Linked DNA regions of Homo sapiens: region 2 is linked to region 1. Evidence: fine-mapped expression QTL. A gene starts in region 1. The other region holds a variant in brackets. All regions are shown on one strand. Distances are between the middles of the regions. Region 1 holds the start of GNA15 (G protein subunit alpha 15). Region 2 overlaps GNA15 (G protein subunit alpha 15).

Region 1 (5,375 bases):
AACCCGGGAGGCGGAGGTTGCAGTGAGTTGAGATCGCACCACTGCACCCCAGCCTGGGTGACAGAGCAAGACTCCGTCTCAAAAAAATAAAAATAAAAATAAGAAAAGAAAAAAGAAAGAAAGGGCCCCCAGTGAAGGTGCAGTTCCTGGGGGTCCCCACCATCCCACTCGATGTTCTCTCTCTTTCCTCTCGGGCGGCCTCTTCCCACTGAACGAGGAAAGGACGATAGCAACCATCACGGGATGATCAAGCTCTTTGCCCGGGGCAGACAAACGCGAGTCCAGAAGACTTGAGACCTTCTCCAGCCCCCAACCCAGAGCTCGGGGATCCCAGAAGACCCTCCCAGGCTAGCATCCCGGGCTTAGGCCAACGGGGCCATAATCAGGGAAAGGTAATTGGGGAAACAAGCTACGGGAATGAGAAGACCCCGAGGTTTCAGAGATCAGAATTTTTTTTTTTTTGAGACGGAGTTTTGTTCTTGTTGCCCAGGCTGGGGTGCAATAGTGCAATCCTGGCTCACTGCAGCCTCCACCTCCTGGTTTCAAGCGATTCTCCTGCCTCAGCCTCCCCAGTAGCTGGGATTACAGGCACATGCCACCACACCCGGCTAATTTTTTTGTATTTTGAGTAGAGACGGGGTTTCGCCACGTTGACCAGGCTGATTTCGAACTCCTGGCCTCAAGTGATCTGCCCGCCTTGGCGTCCCAAAGTGCTGGGATTACAGGCATGATTTATTTATTTATTTTATTTATATTTATTTATTTATTGACAATGAGTCTTGCTCTGTCATCCAGGCTGGAGTGCAGTGGCCCGATCTCAGCTCACTGCAACCTCTGCCTCCTGGGTTCAAGCGATTCTCATGCCTCAGCCTCCCGAGTAGCTGGGATTATAGCTGTGTGCCACCATGCCCAGCTAATTTTTGGTTTTGTTTGTTTGTTTATTTGTTTGAGATGGCGTCTCACTCTGTCGCCAGTCTGGAGTGCAGTGGCATGATCTCAGCTCACTGCAGTCTCCACCTCCTGGTTTCATGCAATTCCCCTGCCTCAGCCTCCCGAGTAGCAGGGACTACAGGCACGCACCACCACATCTGGCTAATTTTTGGTATTTTGGTAGAGATGGGGTTTCACCGTGTTGGTCAGGCTGGTCTCGATCTCCCGACCTTGTGATCCACCCACCTCGGCCTCCCAAAGTGCTGGGATTACAGGCATGAGCCACCATGCCTGGCAAATTTTTGGTATTTTAGTAGAGACGGGGCTTCACCATGTTGGCCTGGCTGTGTCTTGAACTCCTGACCTCAAGTGATCCCACCCGCCTGGGCCTCCCAAAGTGCTGAAATCACAGGCTTGAGCCACTGCACCCAGCCAGAGTTCAGAATCTTGAACCGTTACTGACGTCGACTCCCCCATCTGAAGCCTCCGCATGGAAGCCATCACCCTGTTTTGTTTTCTCCTAGATAATTCTTGTTGCCAGAATTATTTTATCTGCTTATGAGTTTACAGACTAAATGTCTTGGCTCCTTCACAGGAAATGAGATCCAGGAAGACAGAAATATCTTCCCCTGTTTGGCTGCCTCGTTCCTGGGAGCTACCCAATAAATCTTAAATGAATGAATAATGAATGAATGAACCAATGAACCAATCAATCCATCCTTTCTAGCCCCCAAAGGAGCCCTAGACAAGCCCTCTCCAGCCATGGCAGGGAGGTAAAGGCGAGAGGGAGCGTCCTGGTGAAGGAGAGGCTGGAGCCGGCCCCTCCCTTACGGGTGGGCTGGCCAGAACGGGTTGCACACCTGAGCTCATCATTCCCTCGCCATGACACAGACAGGTAGGGCGTGCTGGGCCTGCCCGGCAGGGGCCCGGTAGAGCCACGTCTGCTATTGTATATGCCCCACACAGTGGACAGGCCTGGGCACCTGGCCGCTGGTCGCACGTTGGACAAGGAACTTGGCTTCTCTGAACCTCAGTCTTTCTCATCTGGAAAATGGGTTCCAGGCTCCCCATTCCCTGGGAGGAGGCGACGGCTCCACGATGCCAATGTCTGACCTAGCCTGATCCGCCTCCTTGCCCCGACACCCCTGCCGGCTGGCCACCGCCCACTGCCCACCACCCACCGCCCACCGACCCTGGACTCACCCAAAAGCAGCAGCTTCAGCTCCCCGCGGTCCTGCTTCTTCTGCTCCAAGAGGATCCTGTTGATCTCCTGGTCCACCCGGGCGGCGGCCTTCTCATCCTCCGTCAGGCACCAGGGGCAGCAGCGCCAGGTCAGCGAGCGGGCCATGGTGCGGTGGCCTCAGTCGGCACCGGGTGGCATCGCCCCCGGGCCCCTGCTGGCCAGGGCAACCCCCAGCCCAGCCGGCCCTGGAGAGGGCTCCGGGCAACCGGGTGCGCAGGGAGGCTGCCTTTTCCTTGGGGGTCACCCCCCAGGGACCTAGACTTCCTTGCCTGAAACACCCAGGAAGCCCGGCTCGGCGGTGGCAAGGCTTGAGTGCTGGGAACAGGGTGGGGACGGGAGGAGGTGGGGAGGCCAGGGCTCCCCGCCCACCTCCAGACCTGCTCAGACCCGGCCCGACAGGTTGACGGTGAAGGGTGCCAGGAGAGGGTGAGGTGGGGGCCCCAGGGAGGGCGGGGCGGTGGCGGGAAAACCCCCACCGCAGACTGGGTCCTGTGTGACCAGCAGGGCCCTTCTTCCTCCTTCTGGAGAAGGGGCGGATTCTCCTCAGGCTTCACCCGGAGCTGTCCCCCTCCTCGGAGCCAATCAGGAACCGTCAGACCCGTGCTACTGCTGATACATTATATATATATCATATATATATGTGTGTGTATATATATATATGTGTATATATATATATATATATATATATATATATATATATATATATATATATTTTTTTTTTTTTTTTTGAGACAGAGTTTCACTCTTATTGCCCAGGCTGGAGTGCAGTGGCAGGATCTTGACTCTGCAACATCTGCCTCCCAGGTTCAAGCAATTCTCCTGCCTCAGCCTCTCGAGTAGCTGGGATTACAGGCATCCACCACCACGCCGGGCTAACTTTGGATTTTTAGTAGAGAAAGGGTTCCACCACGTTGGCCAGGCTGGTCTCAAACTCCTGACCTCAGGTGATCCACCCGCCTCGGCCTCCCAAAGTGCTGGGATTGCAGGCATAAACCACCACGCTCGGCCCTTCTGATATATTTTTAAGAAACAGCTCAGGCCAGGTGTCATGGACTGTTTCCAGCGACTCTGCCCTGACCTCAGGTGATCCACCCTGCAGAGGTGGGCAGCTTGCCTGAGGTCAGGAGTTCGAAACCAGCCTGGCCAACATGGCGAAACCCTGTCTCTACTAAAGATACAAAAATTAGCCGGGTTTTGGCTCACATTAGCTGGTTTTACACTCACATCACCCTGTATAGTTACTACTGTCATCCCTGTTTGACTGATGAGGAGGTTGAGGCATAGAGCAGGGGAGTGACCGGTGGGGCTGGCACAAGGCAGAGCCGGGAGCCTATCCCTCACCTGCGGGGCCCCAGAGTCTAGACGCCTACCAGGCAGATTCCAGGCAGGGCCATCCCTTCATTGTGCGTGCATTCATGGAGCGCCAACTGTGTGCCAGGCACGGTAGCCAAGAGACACAGATCCCAGACCTCCTTACCTAAGGTTCTAGTTAAAGAACAGATAATAAAATAAATTTTAGGCTGGGCCTGGTGGCTCACGCATGTAATCCCTATACTTTGGGAGGCCAAGGCGGGCAGATCACAAAGTCAAGAAATCGAGACCAGCCTGGCCAACACGGCGAAACCCCGTCTCTACTAAAAATACAAAAATTAGCCGGGCGTGGTGGTGCACGCCTGTAGTCCCACCTACTTGGGAGGCTGAGGCAAGAGAATCGCTTGAACCCGGGAGGCAGAGGTGGCAGTGAGCTGAGATCGTGCCACTGCACTCCAGCCTGGCGACGAAGTGAGACTCCATCTCAAAAAAAATAAAAAATAAAAGAATAAAAAATTTGGCCAGGTGAGTGCGGGAGCTCACATCTGTAATCAAAGTACTTTGGGAGGCCGAGGCAGGAGGATCACTTGAAGTCAGGAGTTTGAGACCAGCCTGGCCAACATGGAGAAACTCCATCTCTACTAATACAAAAATTAGTTGGGCATGTTGGCACGCACCAGTAGTCCCAGCTACTTGGGAGGCTGAGGCAAGGGAATCACTTGAACCCCGAAGATGGAGGCTGCAGTGAGCCGAGATCATAACACTGCTCTCCAGCCTGGGCAACATAGTGAAACCCTGTCTCCAGAAACAAACAAAACAAAACTCTCCCTCTCTCTCTATGTATATATATACACACACACACATACATATATATACACATACATATATATACACAATATATAGACACACATACATATATGTATATACACATACATATATACACATACATATATATACACAATATATAGACACACATACATATATACACATACATATATACACACATAAAAGTATACATTTTAATATACATATATGTATATTATACATAAAAATATATATGTGTGTATATATATACACACACGTGTAAAATATATATATTTTTTAATACACCTGAGCCCGTTGGATGGTGAAAAATTCTGCCAGAAAAATTAAGCAGAGATGTTGTTGGGGAAGGTTCAAGGTCATTGCTCTAAATGGATCAACAAAGGTCGCACAGACAAGTGATATTCAGGATCAGAAGTCAGACAGGCAGATCGGGTGTAAGAGGGACTTTGGGAGTGGACCTCACTGGTCAAGGAGATCTTCCCAATGAGTGCCATGAGGCCGCCCTGACCTGATCCCTCTGGGACTTCAGGGCCCTAGGGGTGGGCTGGTGGCTGGCAGCTTGGTAGAAACGTTGCTGCTTCCTAGGTACTCAGAGCCAGAGTGTTTGGGTGAAGATTCCCCACCCCCATTGACAGGCTGTAGAAAATTCTAGAAAGTTCTGGATCAAAACTCTCCTCCCCAAGAGATACACGTAATTCTTGTACTTCGGGGGCCTCTGGTCCCTTTACAGATAGGGCAAGGCACAGAGAGGGCGAATTACGTGCCCAGGGCCACACAGCCATTGGCAGCCACCGTCCCCACCTCCTCCCAGACACCAGGGCTCGGTGACAGCCGTTGACGCAGCTTCACCAGCTCAGCACAAACGTGTGGTTTTCTCCACTGTTGATTCATAACGAATGACAGATGGGAAGTACGATAGGGGCCCCCATCTGGTCACTGGGGCTGGCAGGTGCCATCTGCCCACCCAGCCACCCACCTTCCCGCCCCCAACCGGATAGCAGCAACGAGGGGCAGTCCCACCCAGGACAGGCAAAGAAACGCAGAAATAGGTCATGGCCGTGCAGAT
Region 2 (5,375 bases), 27 kb before region 1:
ATCCTGGTCCAGGAAAGGAGGACGGGAGCGAGAACCCGCCACATTCTAGTAAGGTCTACACACAGGTTCGTTCATAGGACGCTCGCTGATGTGAATTTCCTGGGTTGTACTAGGGTTACGTAAGAGGTAAGAGGAAGCTGGGTGGAGGGCATTTGGGAACTGTGTACAACTTCTGCAACTTTTCTGTGAGTCTAAAATTCTTACAAAACAACAACAAGAGGCAGAGCGCGGTGGCTCACACCTGTAATCCCAGCACTTCGGGAGGCCGAGGCGGGCGGATCACAAGGTCAGGAGATTGAGACCATCCTGGCTAACACGGTGAAAGCCCGTCTCTACTAAAAATACAAAAAATTAGCCAGGCGTGGTGGCGGGCGCCTGTAATCCCAGCTACTCGGGAGGCTGAGGCAGGAGAATGGTGTGAACCTGGGAGGCGGAGCTTGCAGTGAGCCGAGATCACACCACTGCACTTCCAGCCTGGGTGACAGAGTGAGACTCCGTCTCAAAAAAAAAACAGAAAGATAGGATGTGGTGAGAAGGGCTGTCACCACTGAGGTCTTCCTCCCTGAAACCCATCACCCCAGTCTGACCAGCAGCAAAATGTCAGACCAAACTCAGTGGAGAGGGTTTCTATAACATACTTTTATATTTATTTATTTATTTATGTATTTATTTATTTATTATTTGAGACAAGGTCTCACTCTGTCGCTCAGGCTAGAGTGCAGTGGCAGGATCTTGGCTCACCGCAACCTCCGCCTCCCGGGTTCAAGCAACTCTCATGCTTCAGCCTCCCAATTAGCTGGGATTGCAAGCATGCACCACCACGCCCGGCTCCTTTTTGTATTACAAAATACCTTTTATAGGTTCAAATGTGGCTCCCCTACAAAGATATGATGAAGTCATAACCCCCGGTATCTGTGAATGGGACCTTATTTAGAAATACGGTCTTTGCCGATGTAATCAAGTTAAGATGGGGATGACAGGCTGGACCCTGATCCAGTGTGACTAGTGTTTTTATAAGAAGAAAAATTAGGCCAGGTGTGGTGGCTCATGCCTGTAATCCCAGCACTTTGGGAGGTCGAGGGAGGCGGATCACTTGAGGTCAGGAGTTTGAGACCAGTTTGGCCAACATGGTGAAACCCTGTCTCTACTAAAAATACAAAAATATGGCCAGGTGTGATGGCACACAACTGTAGTCCAAGCTACTCAGGAGGCTGAGGCAGGAGAATCACTTGAACCTGGGAGGTGGAGGTTGCAGTGAGACGAGATTGCGCCACTGCACTCCAGCCTGGGCCACAGAGCGGGACTCCATCAAAAAAAAAAAAAGTAGCCAGGTGTGGTGGCGGGTGCCTGTAATCTCAGCTACTGCAGAGGCTGAGGCATGAGAATCACTTGAACCCAGGAGGCAGAGGCTGCAGTGAACCGAGATCGCACCACTGCACTCCAGCCTGGGCAACCAAGTGAGATTGTCTCAAAAAACAAACAAATAAAAAACCACAAATGTGTTCAACGTAGGAACAGGCTCCTGCCTCTGTCAATTCCAGGTGTGTGAGCTTAGTCAAATTACTCCACTTCTCTGCGCCCCGGTTTCCTCACCTGTAAAGTGGGGTGCTACGGCTTGCACCCCAGAACACTGCCCTGAGGATAGTAAGAGGCCTTCTCAAAGCTGGGTGGGGGCTGCTACTGGAATTTCAGGTCAGTAGCCACGGAGGAGTCTGCTTCAATGTCCCCCCCAGCCTGGGAGGGAGGTTGGACTCCACGTCCCGGCTTGCGGGACTCACAGCCTCCACAGTTCTGGGTACCATGGCCAGGACAGGTGGGTAGACAAGAAGTATAACTTTTTTCCTTCCTACTCCACGTTGCTCCCCGCACTGTAAGCACTGCCCCCGGGACACGTAAGCCGAGAAAGGAATGCAGAGGGGATAAACAGGACGCTGGCGACGCAGCCTCTAAGAAATCTTTAATTTCAGCCCGCACGGAGCCCTGCAGAAGGTGAGGGAATAAATACAAAAGGTTAAGATGCAGCATGCCCAGCCCCCAGCCTGCAAGGGATGGGGGGATGCTTGTGGGCCGCGATTTCTCTCGTCCGCAAACCGGGGCAGGACACGCTGTGAGCCACCGAGCTCTGAAAGTGACAGTGTTTTCCAGCGGTCTGTTACCCCTTGCAAAGGGAAGTCCCTGCACCCCTAGTCCACAGGTTCCTGGAAGGCGTTCCTTCTCCTGTCCACTA[G/T]AGTGCGCCAGAGTCCACGCCCGAAGGCGCCTGAAGGCTCTACTAGCCCCATCCCAGGGTGTGCGTCACCCACAGAGGGTCCCAGAACCCTGCCCAGGAGGTGACACGCCCGGAGATGGGGCTCCTGAGAGATGCCCACCCACCCAAGTCCTCAATCCCCTGATTTCTTCACCTTTTCATCCACCCTGGCATCCCAAATGGCCGTTTTGCTCCTTCCCTTTCAAAGGAGGGAAACTGAGTCAAGCAAGGGCAGGAGTACCCTGGGGGGCGGCTGTCCTGGTGAGAGGCAGAGAAGAGAGCGGCCAGCAGCGGGCCGTCCGTCCCCCGACTCCCTTGCGTGTGGGCCGAGGCTGGAGAGATAGACCAGGGACACTAGGGGTCCCTGCAGCCACTCCCACCTCCCACCCGCCCGCCGGTGCCGCCTGCCCCAGGTGGGGCCTGGGTCACAGCAGGTTGATCTCGTCCAGGTAGCGGGCGAGCACCGAGTCCCGCACGTCCTTGAAGACCTTGCGGATGTTCTGTGTGTCTGTGGCACATGTGTAGTGGCTGAAGAGGCGTCGGGATCGTGCGCCCTTCTTGCTGCCCTCGGGGCCGTCCACGCACCCGGTGTACATCCTCGTGTACATGTCCAGGATGAACCTCTTGGCTGCCTCAGCATCCTGCTTAGGGCCTGGGGAAACAGTGTGGGAAGGGGGTGAGGACCCTCCCTCTTTGGACCCAGGGGGCCTCTGGAGACCCTCTTCCCTGTAACCAGCACTGAAGGGACCCAGGGATCGCGCCTGTCATTTTTCTGTGCGTTGACTCCATCTTTTGTAGTCATAGCTGGTCACACGACTCCGGCCCAGCCAATGGGAACACAGGAGATTGTCTCACACGAGTCATGTGACCTGAAATGGACCAATGAGACCCAGCTCTGGGACTTCGGGCAGAACTGTGTTAAAGAGAGACACTCTCTTGGCCTCGCTTACAGCCAGTGCAGTTGGAAGACTGGAATCGCATAGACAAATATCCCAGGACTGTGAAGATGGCGGCATCAAGGCCAAACGAGGGGAAGAGAGTCCTCTTTTTTTTTTTCTTGAGATGGGGCCTCGCTCTGTCGCCCAGGCTGGAGTGCAATGGTGCAATCTTGGCAGTAGCTGGGATTACAGGCGCCTGCCACCATGCCCAGGTAATTTTTGTATTTTTAGTAGAGATGGGGTTTTGCCATGTTGGCCAGGCTGGTCTCGAACTCCTGACCTCAAATGATCAGCCCGCCTTGACCCCCCCAAAGCGCTGGGATTACAGGCGTGAGCCACTGTGCCCAGCCCTGCATAGGGTTTTAACATGAAGATTAAAGAAGCTTTGTAGAGTGCTTCCACCAGTGCGGTAGATGTGTTAGCTGCTGTTATCAATTTTATTATTATTATCATTATTATTATTATTATTATTTTGAGACAGAGTCTCACTCTGTCACCCAGGTTGGAGTGAAGTGGCATGATCTCAGCTCACTGCAACCTCCACCTCCTGGGTTCAAGCGATTCTCCTGCCTCAGCCTCCCGAGTAACTGGGATGACAGGCCCCCGCCACCACACCCAGCTAATTTTTGTATTTTTAACAGAGATGGGGCTTTGCCATGTTGGCCAGGCTGGTCTCAAACTCCTGACCTAAAGCGATCTGCGCGCCTCAGCCTCCCAAAGTGTGGTTTCTTATTATTATCACAAATATTATTTAGCACAGTGGAGGGTAGGGCTGGGAGTCAGCAAAGAGTGCACCAGTCACTTGTGCTGGGAGACAAGGATGAGTCATGGGTGGTTCCCTTTGACCTGAATGAAAAAAATATCTACCTTATCCTGTTCCCAAATTCTCTAAACTATGAGCTGATTCCCAGGGCTGCTTGGCAAGGAAGAGGGGCTATCCAGGCCACCATCCTGGAACAACTTGACGTCTATCTCCCAGACCCTGAATCTTGTGGGTATAATTGGCTAAAATTGGCCTCATGGGCTCTGAGACATGACAAGACCAGGGATCAAAACCTGGTGACTTCACCAAAGTTTATGTTTACTGATTGTGGACCTGGTGTCAAGCATGTACTAAGGACTCATCTACTATGGTTGCTTGTATATTGAGGTGAACAGTGTCCCCCAAAATTCATGTCCACCTGGAACTTCAGAATATGACTTTTAGAAATCGGATATTTGCAGATGTAATTAGTTAAGTTAAATTAGGTCATGGCCAGGCATGAGGGCTCACGCCTGTAATCCTAGCACTTTGGAAGGCCAAGGCAGGTGGATGACAGATGTGTGGTTGGGCCCAGGAGTTCCAGATCAGCCTGGGCAACATGGCGAAACCCTGTCTCTACAGAAATATACAAAAATTACCCAGGTGTGGTGGTGTGCGCCTGTAGTCCCAGCAACTCAAGAGGCTGAGGTGGGAGGATCACCTGTGCCCAGGAGGTTGAGGCTGCAGTGAACTGTGATCACACCACTGGACTCTAGCCTGGGCAACAGAGCAAGACCTTGTCTCAAAAAAAAAAAAAAAAAAAAAAAGTGGTCATACCAAAGTATGGGCCCTAAATCCAATGACTGGTGGCCTTATAACAACAGGAGAGGACACATAAAGGCATGGTGAGAAGACAGCCATGTGAACATGGAGGCAGAGATTGCAGTGATATGTCTACAAGCTAAGGATTGTAGGCCACCACCAGAAGCTGAGAGAGAAGCATGGAATGGATTTTCCCTTAGAGCCTCCAAAAGGAACCAACCTTGCCAATACCTTAACTTTGGACTTCTGTTGTTTCCTGTTGTTTTAAGCCACCCAGTTTGTGGTACTTTGTTACGGCATCCCCAGGACATGAAGGCAAGTTATCTCCAAGATGGCTGCCGTCACTTCCTTCCCTCCCTGTATGCATGTGTCATGCTGCCTTCAAGAGATGGAGTCTCTTTCTTTTGAATCCGGGCTGATATGAGTGATGTGCTTGACAAATAGAATGTGGCAGAGTAACGTCTGACATTTCTGAGGCTATCATGAGAAGCAGCTTCCACCTGGGCTGAAGTCTGTCTACCCTGAGGCAGCCATATTGTGAGTAAGCTCAAACCATGTGAAGAGGCTGTGGATCATGAGGCCCCAGATGGAGACAGAGAGAACAGGGGAGGTGGAAAAGGAGAGACAG

Evidence for each region. PIP is the estimated chance that this variant, and not a neighbour inherited with it, causes the effect.
Region 2: its variant is fine-mapped to the expression of GNA15 in whole blood (TOPMed, PIP above 0.99).

Annotation. Positions count from the first base shown.
Region 1 is chr19:3,133,354-3,138,728 of GRCh38, reverse strand. GNA15 (G protein subunit alpha 15) reads right to left here and starts at 2,696. Exons shown (of 7, transcript NM_002068.4): 1 at 2,134-2,696. The coding sequence starts at 2,278.
Region 2 is chr19:3,160,315-3,165,689 of GRCh38, reverse strand. GNA15 (G protein subunit alpha 15) reads right to left here. Exons shown (of 7, transcript NM_002068.4): 7 at 1,941-2,897. The coding sequence ends at 2,671. Among named protein-coding and RNA genes, the nearest start is that of GNA15-DT, 7.8 kb to the right of the region's middle. RefSeq lists enhancers at 1,419-2,279, 2,280-3,141, 2,945-3,239. The variant G/T (reference allele first, on the strand shown) is at 2,228.